Linked DNA regions of Homo sapiens. The protein of the gene in region 2 interacts with the protein of the main gene of each other region in a pairwise test. Each region holds a gene or a part of one and is shown on either strand. Other genes may lie near its edges. The genes, in order: CPSF7, UNKL and EXOSC7.

Evidence for each region.
Region 1: the proteins of UNKL (region 2) and CPSF7 interact in a two-hybrid assay, tested with the Homo sapiens proteins (one large-scale study listed by BioGRID).
Region 3: the proteins of UNKL (region 2) and EXOSC7 interact in a two-hybrid assay, tested with the Homo sapiens proteins (one large-scale study listed by BioGRID).

The regions. Positions count from the first base shown.
Region 1 is NC_000011.10:61,405,846-61,409,494, forward strand, and holds part of CPSF7 (cleavage and polyadenylation specificity factor subunit 7), read right to left. Parts: intron 1-3,649.
Region 2 is NC_000016.10:1,397,672-1,401,320, reverse strand, and holds part of UNKL (putative E3 ubiquitin-protein ligase UNKL), read left to right. Parts: intron 1-1,811; coding exon 1,812-1,947; intron 1,948-2,379; coding exon of another isoform or gene 2,380-2,479; exon of another isoform or gene 2,480-3,020; intron 3,021-3,181; coding exon of another isoform or gene 3,182-3,241; intron 3,242-3,649. UniProt on the Homo sapiens protein: May participate in a protein complex showing an E3 ligase activity regulated by RAC1. Ubiquitination is directed towards itself and possibly other substrates, such as SMARCD2/BAF60b. Intrinsic E3 ligase activity has not been proven.
Region 3 is NC_000003.12:45,003,595-45,007,243, forward strand, and holds part of EXOSC7 (exosome complex component RRP42), read left to right. Parts: intron 1-1,696; coding exon 1,697-1,820; intron 1,821-3,649. UniProt on the Homo sapiens protein: Non-catalytic component of the RNA exosome complex which has 3'->5' exoribonuclease activity and participates in a multitude of cellular RNA processing and degradation events.

The DNA.
Region 1 (3,649 bases), on a different chromosome or scaffold from region 2:
GGCCTGTCTAAACACCTACGCAGGCTGGTATTTGTCCCATTTTCTCTAAGGGAAAACTGAAGCCCTCAGTGCACTCAATTACATACCATTAGGGCTTCTGAATCTTTGAATTCGATCCAAATTGAAGAGAAAGCTCAGTTTTCAATGGATAACGAGGACAGGAATGACGTGAGAATGACTATATTTCAAGTAGGATAATGTCCTAAAATAATGAGATAACTGACATAGTTGAGAACTACAAAAAGTTGAAGACACAGGTTGCAGAGGATAACTTGTACACCAAGAGAAGCAAGCCATAGCACTGAATTCTTAAATCTCCATGGCTACATTTTGGTGCCAATGTTGGAATGCAGGCAGAAATCAGAGATTCCTTCAAGTGGGCCAATTAGCCTTCAGGCCCCAGAACTGGGTCTTACGCCGAGAAAAGATGGACAAAGAAGGCTACTGTTCTATTGCTGCCTCTGGACAAAATGTACCTTTCACTCTCAGGGAACAGCTGTCATCATAGAATATAAATATGATTCATTTCTAACTAAAAGGTTGCTATAAATGAGGACCATGTACCATCTTCCCAACATGAAACTTCCTAAGCCATAACTTGGTCACTACAGATGGAATTAAGAGTCCTTAGGGTGAGAATGTAAGAAATTGACATTCTTGGGGTGCCTGATTCAGTTCTTTCAGACTATTATTCAGATGCAATAACCACTATATCAAACGGGTGACCAGGAAAAGTGAGGAAGTAGAAAACCTGCCTCAGAGTTAATTTTTCCCATCTTGTCATGGGCCTACACAAGTCAAATGACTGTTTTCTAGGCAATATTGTTACAGCATTTTCAAAGTTACCAAAAGAGAGTTATCCTCATAATGGGAGAAATAGTCTCATCTTATTTTATTTTTATTACTATTTTTTTTGAGACAGGGTCTTGCTCTATTGCCCAGGCTGGAGTGCAGTGGCACAAACATGGCTCACTGCAGCCTCTATCTCCCGGGCTCAAGTGATCCTCCCACCTAAGTGCCCCCAAGTAGCTGGGACTCCTCCTGCCTCAGCACCCCCAAGTAGCTGGGACTACAGGAGCACATCACCATGCCCAGCTAGTTTTGTATCTCTGGTAGAGACGAGTGTTTTGCCATGTTCCTCAGGCTGGTCCCTGAGCTCAAGCGATCTGCCCCTCTCGGCCTCCCAAAGTGTTGAAGTTACAGGCATGAGCCACTGTGCCTGGCCCCATTTTATAAGTGGAAGAAATAATGCAAAGTGACAGCTAAAGACTCAGGTTGAGATGTTTAATTCTCAAACTACTGCTGGATCAGTGGATCTCGCTGGTAATTTCCCTGTCATAAGGCTGTCAGGAGCAAAGCCATCAGGAATGGTGACATGCATTTATGTTCTAACTACTAAACTGAATGCAGCCCCAAAGACGACAGTGCATGCTCTGCACAGGTCAATCATCACCTTCCTGTTCACTCTTATCCCAGTCAGCTCCAAAAGACATACACTGTAGCCTACATGTGCTTTTCAACCCACAAGTAACACTAGCAACTGTGCAGACTCAAACAAGAAAAGGGAGTTAGGACTGGACCAAGACCAACTCTAATGCCTGCCCTCATGCCCACCTGAGACTGAATTAGGCCAAAGTTGTTTGTGGTCTCCATCTACAATAGCGTCTGCTTTTCCAGAGGATACATGGGCATCTCCCCAAACTCAACCTGTTGCAAAATCTAGAAAGAAGTACCTGGAGCCCACAGCCTAACTGTTGATTCTACATGAGTTAACCTAGATTTCAATGATGTTAAGCACTCTAGGATTTTGTGGAATAAATGAGTGGCTAACAACAGAGAACAGAGACAAAAAATATTAGTAATTTTTCATCTTTCCACTTACTTGTTTGGGAGAAGATAAAAACAATTCCTGGCTATAAATCTATTTAAGCTAATGGCCAAAGAACAAGACAGAGGGCAGTAGCCAAACCTAAAAGGAGTATTTTGGTTTTTAGTAGGTTGTCACTGGGCAAAATACTGCTAATTTTCCAACTATTTACATTCCAGCTACTGCTCATGAACTATAGGGGCTCACAGGTGGTGAGTTTCTTTGTCCTTCTTCATCCAGATATCGCCATCCCAAAGACACCAAAAAGAACTACTATTCTTTCCCCTCACCTTCCTTTTCAATTACCATTACTTTAGATCAAGCAGGCAAATAATCAAGGACATCTTTTTTTTTTTTTTTTTGAGACAGAGTCTCACTCTGTCGCCCAGGCTGGAGTACAGTGGCGCGATCTCGGCTCACTGCAAGCTCTGCCTCCCGGGTTCATGCCATTCTCCTGCCTCAGCCTCCTGAGTAGCTGGGACTACAGGCACCTGCCACCATGCCCGGCTAATTTTTTTGTGTGTATTTTTAGTAGAGATGGGGTTTCACCGTGTTAGCCAGGATGGTCTCGGTCGGGATAGAGACGGGGTTTCACCATGTTAGCCAGGACGGTCTCAATCTCCTGACCTCGTGATCCACCCACCTTGGCCTCCCAAAGTGCTGGGATTTCAGGTGTGAGCCACCGTGCTCGGCCAAGGACATCTTCCTAATGTACTTGATGTGAGACAGAGAAATGGGAAGTCCTAGAGACTTATAAATCTGCAACCACAAAATTAAGAAAGGACCCTGAAGTTACCTGGGTCACGCAGTAGCCTCCAAGAACTACAGACAGACCCCTAGCCACTCTGGCCTATTTTAAAGATTTCCATAGAAGCAGAGACAACACCTGCTCCTATATGCTTATATAATAGAAACAATCTTTCCAGAAGTTTTCCTTCAGTTGGGATTGCTAAGCTGGTAGGATGCAACCTAAAGACACAGCACCCCCTCTGACTCCCTACCAATATGGAGCCTGTCTAAGAATGAAAGCAACAGAGAAAAGCAGAGCTGAGAGATGCAGATAAAGTCTGGATGACACAGCCAGAGCCCCTGGATCCAACCAATCTTAACTGAACTTCTCCATTACTTAAGAGTTTTTATCCCAACCTTCCTGCTTTCATTTTGCTTCAAAAGAAAATTACAGCCAGTCGCAGTGGCTTCATGCCCATAATCCCACAGCACATTGGGAGGCTGAGGCAGGGGGATCACTTGAGGCCAGGAGTTCAAGACCAGCCTGGGCAACAAAGCAAGACTCTACAAAAAATTTAAAAATTAGCCCTCAGGAGGCTGAGGCAGGAGGATCACCTGAGCCCAGGAGGTTGATGTTACAGAGCCATGATGGTGCCTCATGACAGTGCACTCCAGCCTGGGTGACAGAGTGAGACAATGTGTCTATTAAAAAAACAAAAACAAAAACAAAACAAAACAAAACAAAAAAACAGCCGGGTGCGGTGGCTCACGCCTGTAATCCCAGCACTTTGGGAGGCCGAGTCAGGTGGATCACGAGGTCAGGAGTTCAAGACCAGCCTGGCCGAGATGATGAAACCCCGTCTCTACTGAAAATACAAAAATTAGCCGGGCGTGGTGGTGGGCGCTTGTAATCCCAGCTACTCGGGAGGCTGAGGCAGAGAATTGCTTGAACCCGGGAGGTGGAGTTTGCAGTGAGCCGAGATTGCGCCACTGCACTCCAGCCTGGGCAAGAGTGAGACTCTGTCTCAAAACAAAACAAAACAAAAAACACAA
Region 2 (3,649 bases):
CAGCCATTGACCAAGTGGCCGAGGAGGTAGCACAACTCCCACCGGAACTCGTGAGGCGTCCTGTCCCAGAGCCGGGGCGCCCACCAGGCACCCACCAGGATGCTCAGCAGAGCCCCCAGCCCACCAGGCACCCACCAGGATGCCCAGCAGAGCCCCCAGCCCTGCGCCTCTCTGGGGTGGTGCTCTAGACAGCAGCTTTCAAATCCCTGAGCTTGGCCAGAAACATATGGACCAGGGGGCTGTCCCTCGGGGCTGGGGGACCTGCATTCCTGGCTGGCACACAGATGAGGTTATATGCAGGGGAGATTTTGATTTGAAAAAAAACGTGGTAAGGCTGGGAGCACTGGCTCACGCCTGTAATCTCAGCACTTTGGGAGGCCGAGGCGGGCAGATCACTTGAGGTCAGGAGTTTGAGGCCAGCCTGGCCAACATGGTGAAACCATGTCTCTGCTAAAAATACAAAAAATTAGCCGGTTGTGGTGGTGGGCGCCTGTAATCCCAGCTACTTGGGAGGCTGAGGCTGGAGAATCTCTTGAACTCGGGGGGTGAAGGTTGCAGTGAGCCAAGATCACGCCACTGCACTCCAGTGTGGGTGACAGAGTGAGACTCCGTTTCAAAAAAAAAAATGTAAAATACACACAACATAAAATGCACCATTTTTAAGTGTACAGTCCAGTGGCATTTAGCACGTCTGCAGTGTTGTGCAGCTGCCACCTCTCTCTAGTTCCAGAACATTCCATCCCTGCAGAAGGAACCCCCCTGCTTATGAGCAGTTCCTCCCCATCCCCTCCCTGGTCCCTGCACTCACTGGCCTGCATCCCATCTCTGTGAATTTGTGTATTCTGGACATTGCGTATGGCAGCGATTTTTTTTTTTTTTTTTTTTTTTTTTTTTTTTTTTTTTGAGATGGAGTCTCGCTCTGTCACCCAGGCTGGAGTGCAGTGGCACAATCTCAGCTCACTGCAACCTCCGCCTGCCAGGTTCAAGCAATTCTCCTGCCTCAGCCTCCTGAGTAGCTGGGATTACAGGCAGGCACCAGTATGCCCGGCTAATTTTTTATTTTTAGTAGAGACGGGGTTTCACTGTGTTGGCCAGGCAAGTCTTGAACTCCTGACCTTGTGATCCACCCACCTCGGCCTCCCAAAGTGCTGGGATAACAGGCGTGAGCCACCACGTCCGGCCCAGTGAATGACTTCTAAAAATAGGCTTTATTTTTTAGAGCGGTTTCCGGTTCACAGCAAAACTGAGTAGAAAAATAGATTTCCCAAACACCCCCTGCCCCCTCAGCCTCCCCTGCCGTGCACCTCCTGCACTGCGAGGTACGCTCTTTACCAACAGTGAACCCACACTGATGTGTGCTTGTCACCCAGAGGCTGTGGTGCGCATGAGGCTCACCATGCGGCATTTCGGGGTGTGCATGTCTCTGGATTTTAGCATATTCTCAAAAGCTGTGCACACATCACCTCTCTCTAGTTGGAGAACATTTTCATCCCCCAGCAAGGAAGCCGCACACCCACAGCAGGACTCCCTCCCAGCCCTGGTGGTCTCGGCTCCACTCCGTCTCTGTGGGTTCCCTAGTTCTGGGCATTTTCACATAAACAGAATCACACCACGTGGCCTTCTGGCCCGGCTTCCCTCATGGAGCGCGAGTCCTTTGACATCAGCGTGTGCCGTGGCGTGTGTCTGCGCTCCCCAAGTCCTCCTGCAGCCCCTTCCATTTGGGGGACAGCCAGGTCCTTCCACCTTTGGTCTCCTCTGCCCAGCATTGCTTCCAGTCGCGCTGCTCAGGCACCGTGTGGCCCATTTTTCAGATGCCAACTTCGTGCTGGGCAGCTACAAGACGGAGCAGTGCCCGAAGCCGCCACGCCTGTGCCGCCAGGGCTATGCGTGCCCACACTACCACAATAGCCGGGACAGGCGGCGCAACCCCCGGCGGTTCCAGTACAGGTGAGCCTGCGGGACCGTGCTCAGAGGACTCCGGCTGGTGGGCGTCCTTCCCGGCCCGTGGCTCGCGTTGCCCACCCCGGGGTTCTAATGGGAGGGCTGCCCTTGTGGCACCATCATCCCCGGGAGGGGAGGGCATCTCCAAGCACAGTGGCTGTGGGAGGTGCCATGGAGGCCCACGCGTCTGTCCTGGGGATGGGCCTCCCCACCTACGCTCAGTGTCTCCCATGCAGTCCCCTACCGGGGCCCCTCTGCCAGGCAAGGGGACGGAGCACTGCAGGAGGGACCCCAAGCCCAGCTGGGACCCCCGTGTGCCCCACCCGTGCCTCTGGTTGCAGCCACGCTCTCCAGCCTGTGGGCTGCATGCTGTCTCCTCACCCAAGCTGCCAGGGGCTCAGGCACTGTCGTCACCTGGGCTCAATCTTGTCTTCACAGCTGGCAGCTGGGACGCCGGGTCCTTAGGCTGAGTCCCAGGGCCAACAACCCAAGGGTCGCCCTGCCCAGGGTGCACACAGGACCTTCCTCCACCGCCTGAGCCCCAGCTGTCCCCTGGGTCTGGCTTGTGGGTTTGGCACCTCGCAGCCTGCTTGCCTCTGAAGCCCCTTTCTCCTCCTTGCTCCAGCCCGGCCTTCTGGTTGTGCCTGGCCTGGCTTGCCTCCTGTCTGCAGTTTGCACCTGAGAGGGGGGTGGGGGGGTGCAGACCCCACAGGGTGTCTGGATGCCTGGGCCATGGCCTTGGCCTCCCTGAGGCCCTGTCTGTGTCCAGCTCTTCCTTTGAGCAGAGAGCCACCCTCGCCTCTTTTGAATGACCTGGTGCTGCCTCGCATGCCCCGGAGAGCACCTGTGCTTCCTTTGGGAAGGACGCCCCACTCCTTGTTGTTATGCCACGTTCAGTCTCCCTCTGAGCAGCTTCCGAGTAAAGGACCTGAACGGCTGTAGAACAAACCACAAATTAGTGTCTGAGATTTTGTCATCGCCCGTCATGGAAAGAAAATAAAAATTATTTTTTCAACAGGCACTTAATGTGTCCCATAAATACAAATCAGTTACAATAAAGCAGCTAGAGATTCCACGAAGAGTAGAGGATTTTGTTTTTTTATGAGACAGAGTCTCACTCTGTGGCCCAGGCTGGAGTGCGGTGGTGCAGTCTCAGCTCACTGCAGTAGGAACATAGGTAATTTGAAATTGGTGCGGAGTTTTAAATTGTGGGATCAAAACTCTCGCTTCCATTTTATAGAAAGTTGGCGAGGAGACAGCCCCGTGCTGTCTGGGCGCCCGGCCTCACTGTCCCCAGGAGGTTCGGCTGCTTCTCCCCTGCGTTCTCCACGTCCGTGAGGGTGGCTCTGACTGAGACTCAAGTTAAATTCTGTGAAGAACAGCCCCGGGGCTCCTGACCCCATCCTGGCACTGGCCGGGCCTGCGTGTCCGTGAGCGCAGAGCTGCGTTGCCTGTCACTCCAGGGCCCCATGCCCGAGGCCCCTCCTGGTGGGAGGCAGACACCCCTGGGCACACGAGGAACCATGTTTTCCTGTGTCCCCCTGACACCTCCTCATCCCCAGGTCCACGCCCTGCCCCAGCGTGAAGCACGGGGGTCGGGGTGGGGGAGCCAAGTCCTCTGTGTCCCCCTGACACCTCCTCATCCCCAGGTCCATGCCCTGCCCCAGCGTGAAGCACGGGGGTCGGGGTGGGGGAGCCAAGTCCTCTG
Region 3 (3,649 bases), on a different chromosome or scaffold from region 2:
TGTTTCCATTACAGTAGCTGGATGGACCACCTCTTCCTTCCTGGCTCCTCCAACCCAGCCTGGAGTGAATTGACTTTATAGGTTAAATGTGTTTTTCAGTACCCAGCTGAAGAAACAGAATGTTGCCAGCACCCCAGAAGCATCCCACACCTTCTGTACCCCCATGCAATTACACTCACTGATGATAACCAGCATCTTAAAAGAATAGATTACTTTTGTACTTGATATAAATGGTATCATATACTATGTTCTGTTTTGTGTCTGCCTCATTCACTAAGCATTGTGTTTTGAGAGATCTGTGTTGCTGCCTTAGTCATAGCTTGCTTTTTGCTGTATGGTGTTCCATTGTGTGACTTTGTCCAGTCTGCTGTTTATCCAGTCTACTGTCCAGTCTGCTGTTGTTTATCAGTCTACTGTTGATGGCCATCTGGTTCATTTCCAGTTTGAGGCTATTACAAATAGGGATGGGCATCATGAACATTTTGTGCATGTCTTTGGTGCACATATTTCTCTATTTCTGTTAGGGAGGAGTGTTCTGGGTTATAGGGTATGGCTATCTTTAGTTACGGTAGATGCTGCCAGTTTCACAAAGTGTTTTACCAGTTAACACTTCCACCAGCAGTGTATGTAAGAGTTCCGGGTTGTTTCACATTTTTGTCAACTCTTGCTTTTTTTTTTTGAGATGGAGTCTCACTCTGTCTCCCAGGCTGGACTGCAGTGGCGTGATCTCAGTTCACTGCAACCTCCACTTCCCAGGTTCAAGCGATTCTCTTACCTCAGCCTCCCAAGTAGCTGGGATTACAGGTGTGCACCACCACACCCAGCTAATTTTTGTATTTTTAGTAGAGATGGGGTTTCACCATCTTGGCCAGGCTGGTCTCGAACTCCTGACCTCAGGTGATCCTCCCGCCTTGGCCTCTGAAAGTACTGGGATTACAGGCATGAGCCACCATGCCTGGCGTTTTTTTTTTTTTGTTTTTTTTTTTAATAGTTATTTTGGTTGTGCCTTGGTATCACAGTGTAGTTTTAATTTGCATTTTTAATAGATATTTAAATTGAGCACCTTTTCTTGGTTTATTGGCTACTCAGACAGCCTCTTTTATGAAGACATCCAAATATATTCTACGTTTGAGTCTTTTGTCCATTTTTCTGTTGGGCTGTCTTTTTTTTGTTTAATAGGAATTCTTTATGTAATCTGTCAGGTAGTATTTTATCTCCCCAGATTATATTTTTAGTTTTTAAATGATGTCTTCTGATATACAGAAGTTCATGATGTTATAATTGAATATGTAACTTTTTTCTCTTTCTGTATCCTGTTCAAGAAATAGTTGTCTACTCCAAGGTCATGCAGATGTTTTTTTCTAAATGCTTTATTGTCTTGTCTTTTATTTTTTATATCTATGGTCTATTTGGTATGGCTTCGTGTGTGTGGTGTGAGGTAGGGATTGAGATTCTTTTTTTTCCATTGGGATATCTGATTGACCCAGCATCATTTTCTAAAAGATGCCTTTCCTCATTGCACTGCGGCGCCTCCTGTGTGCTTTTGACAGGGATGACAGGGATGAGGATGATAAAGAATAGGCATAGCGTGTCTTTCTCTTGTGAGACACAGGGATTCCAACTCCTATTCTCAATCTTAAAAAGAAGTTATTTTTCCTCCTCCAAGTGGGAATTTTACTAGTGCTTCTGCTTCCAGGATACCAAGGGTTCGAGTTTTGGAGGATGAAGAGGGGTCGAAGGACATTGAATTGTCAGATGACCCTTATGACTGCATACGACTAAGTGTGGAGAATGTCCCCTGCATTGTCACTCTGTGCAAGGTATAACTTGTATTTTATGGTTTTTGTCTTCCCTGTGGGTGTGGGTCTCCTCTAATCCCAACCTGCTGAGGTTACTTAATAAGTTAAGAAGTTGTAATACCACACACCATATAGAAGTAGCTTTTACCCAAATCCAATAATTTGGTTATACTAGAAACCACTACCACGAGTAGCTCTTTCTTTTCTTTTTAATTGGAAGATATGATGTGGTCCTGGGAGCCATGAGTGTGTTTGTAGTAATAGTAGCCAGAGTTTGTTAAGCTCCTTCCACATACCATGTGCTTCACTAAAGCACCATGTCTTTTAATTACCTCAACTCTATGGGGTCTAGGGTGGTTGAGTAGTGGCAGGGTGGCGAACACTGTCCCCCCTATGAAATGGGAGGTTGGAGCAGGTCTTGGGTATCATGAGTGGTTTTCACATAGAGGGCTGTGGAGCTGAACATCAGGCTGATGTGATATATAACTAATGCTGCCCCAGGCTGTGCAAAGAGGCCTGTATTGGCTATTGACTGGGATTGTAGCTAATTCCACTCAGGATTCATTATCTCAAAATAAAGCTAAACAGGTCAGGTTTAATTCCACTGAAATCACTTCATGAACAGGATGTGGTGAAGTGTTCAGACAACAGGATGGCAGGATGTTGGGTCTTGGCTTTTTTTTTTTTTTTTTTTTTTTTTTTTTGAGACAGTCTTGCTGCAACGCCCAGGCTGGAGTGCAATGGCGCGATCTCAGCTCACTGCAACCTCCGCCTCCCAGGTTCAAGCAATTCTTCTGCCTCAGCCTCCCAAATAGCTGGGATTACAGGCACGTGCCATCATGCCTGGCTAATTTTTGTATTTTTAGTAGAGACGGTGTTTCACCATGTTGGCCAGGCTGGTCTCAAACTCCTGACCTCGGGTGATCTGCCCACCTCAGCCTCCCAAAGTGCCGGGATTACAGGCATAAGCCACCGCACCTAGCCGGCTTGTTCTTTCTTGTTGTTTATTTGTTTTTTTTTTTTTTTTTTTTTTTGAGACAGAGTCTCGCTCTGTCGCCCAGGCCGGACTGCGGACTGCAGTGGTGCAATCTCGGCTCACTGTAAGCTCCGCTTCCTGGGTTCACGCCATTCTCCTGCCTCAGCCTCCCGAGTAGCTGGGACTACAGGCGCCCGCCACCGCGCCTGGCTAATTTTTTGTATTTTTAGTAGAGACGGGGTTTCACCTTGTTAGCCAGGATGGTCTCGATCTCCTGACCTCATGATCTGCCCGCCTCGGCCTCCCAAAGTGCTGGGATTACAGGCGTGAGCCACCGCGCCCGGCCTTGTTTTGAGACAGTGTTGCTCTGTTGCCCAGGCTGGAGTGCAGTAGCACAATCTAGGCTCACTGCAACCTCTGCTGCAACCCCCCCACCCGCCCCGGCTCAACCTCAAGCAACCCTTCCACCTCAGCCTCCCAAGTAGCTGGTACCACAGGCTCACACCACCATATCTGGCTATTTTTTTGTATTTTTGGTGGAGACAGGGTCTTGCCATGTTGCCTGGGCTGGTCTCAAACTCCTGAGCTCAAGCATTCCATTTTCCTCAGCTTCCCAAAGTGCTGGGAGGCATGAGCCGCTGCGCCCAGCCTTTGGCTTGTTCTTGAGTGTGTCCCTTAGCATGGACCCTCTTGATTCCCCCTTGCCATCAGTGAAACGTCCATGTGGCCTTGTGTGTGAATTTCTCCCTTGTGCCCCTCTGTTGGAAAGCCTTGGTGGCCTTTGTCTTGGTTGGTCTCTGAATTCTAGTTTTAAACCACCTTGCCCTGTTTTTCCATATCGTGTTTTTATTGTACCACCCACACAGTGGCCTGT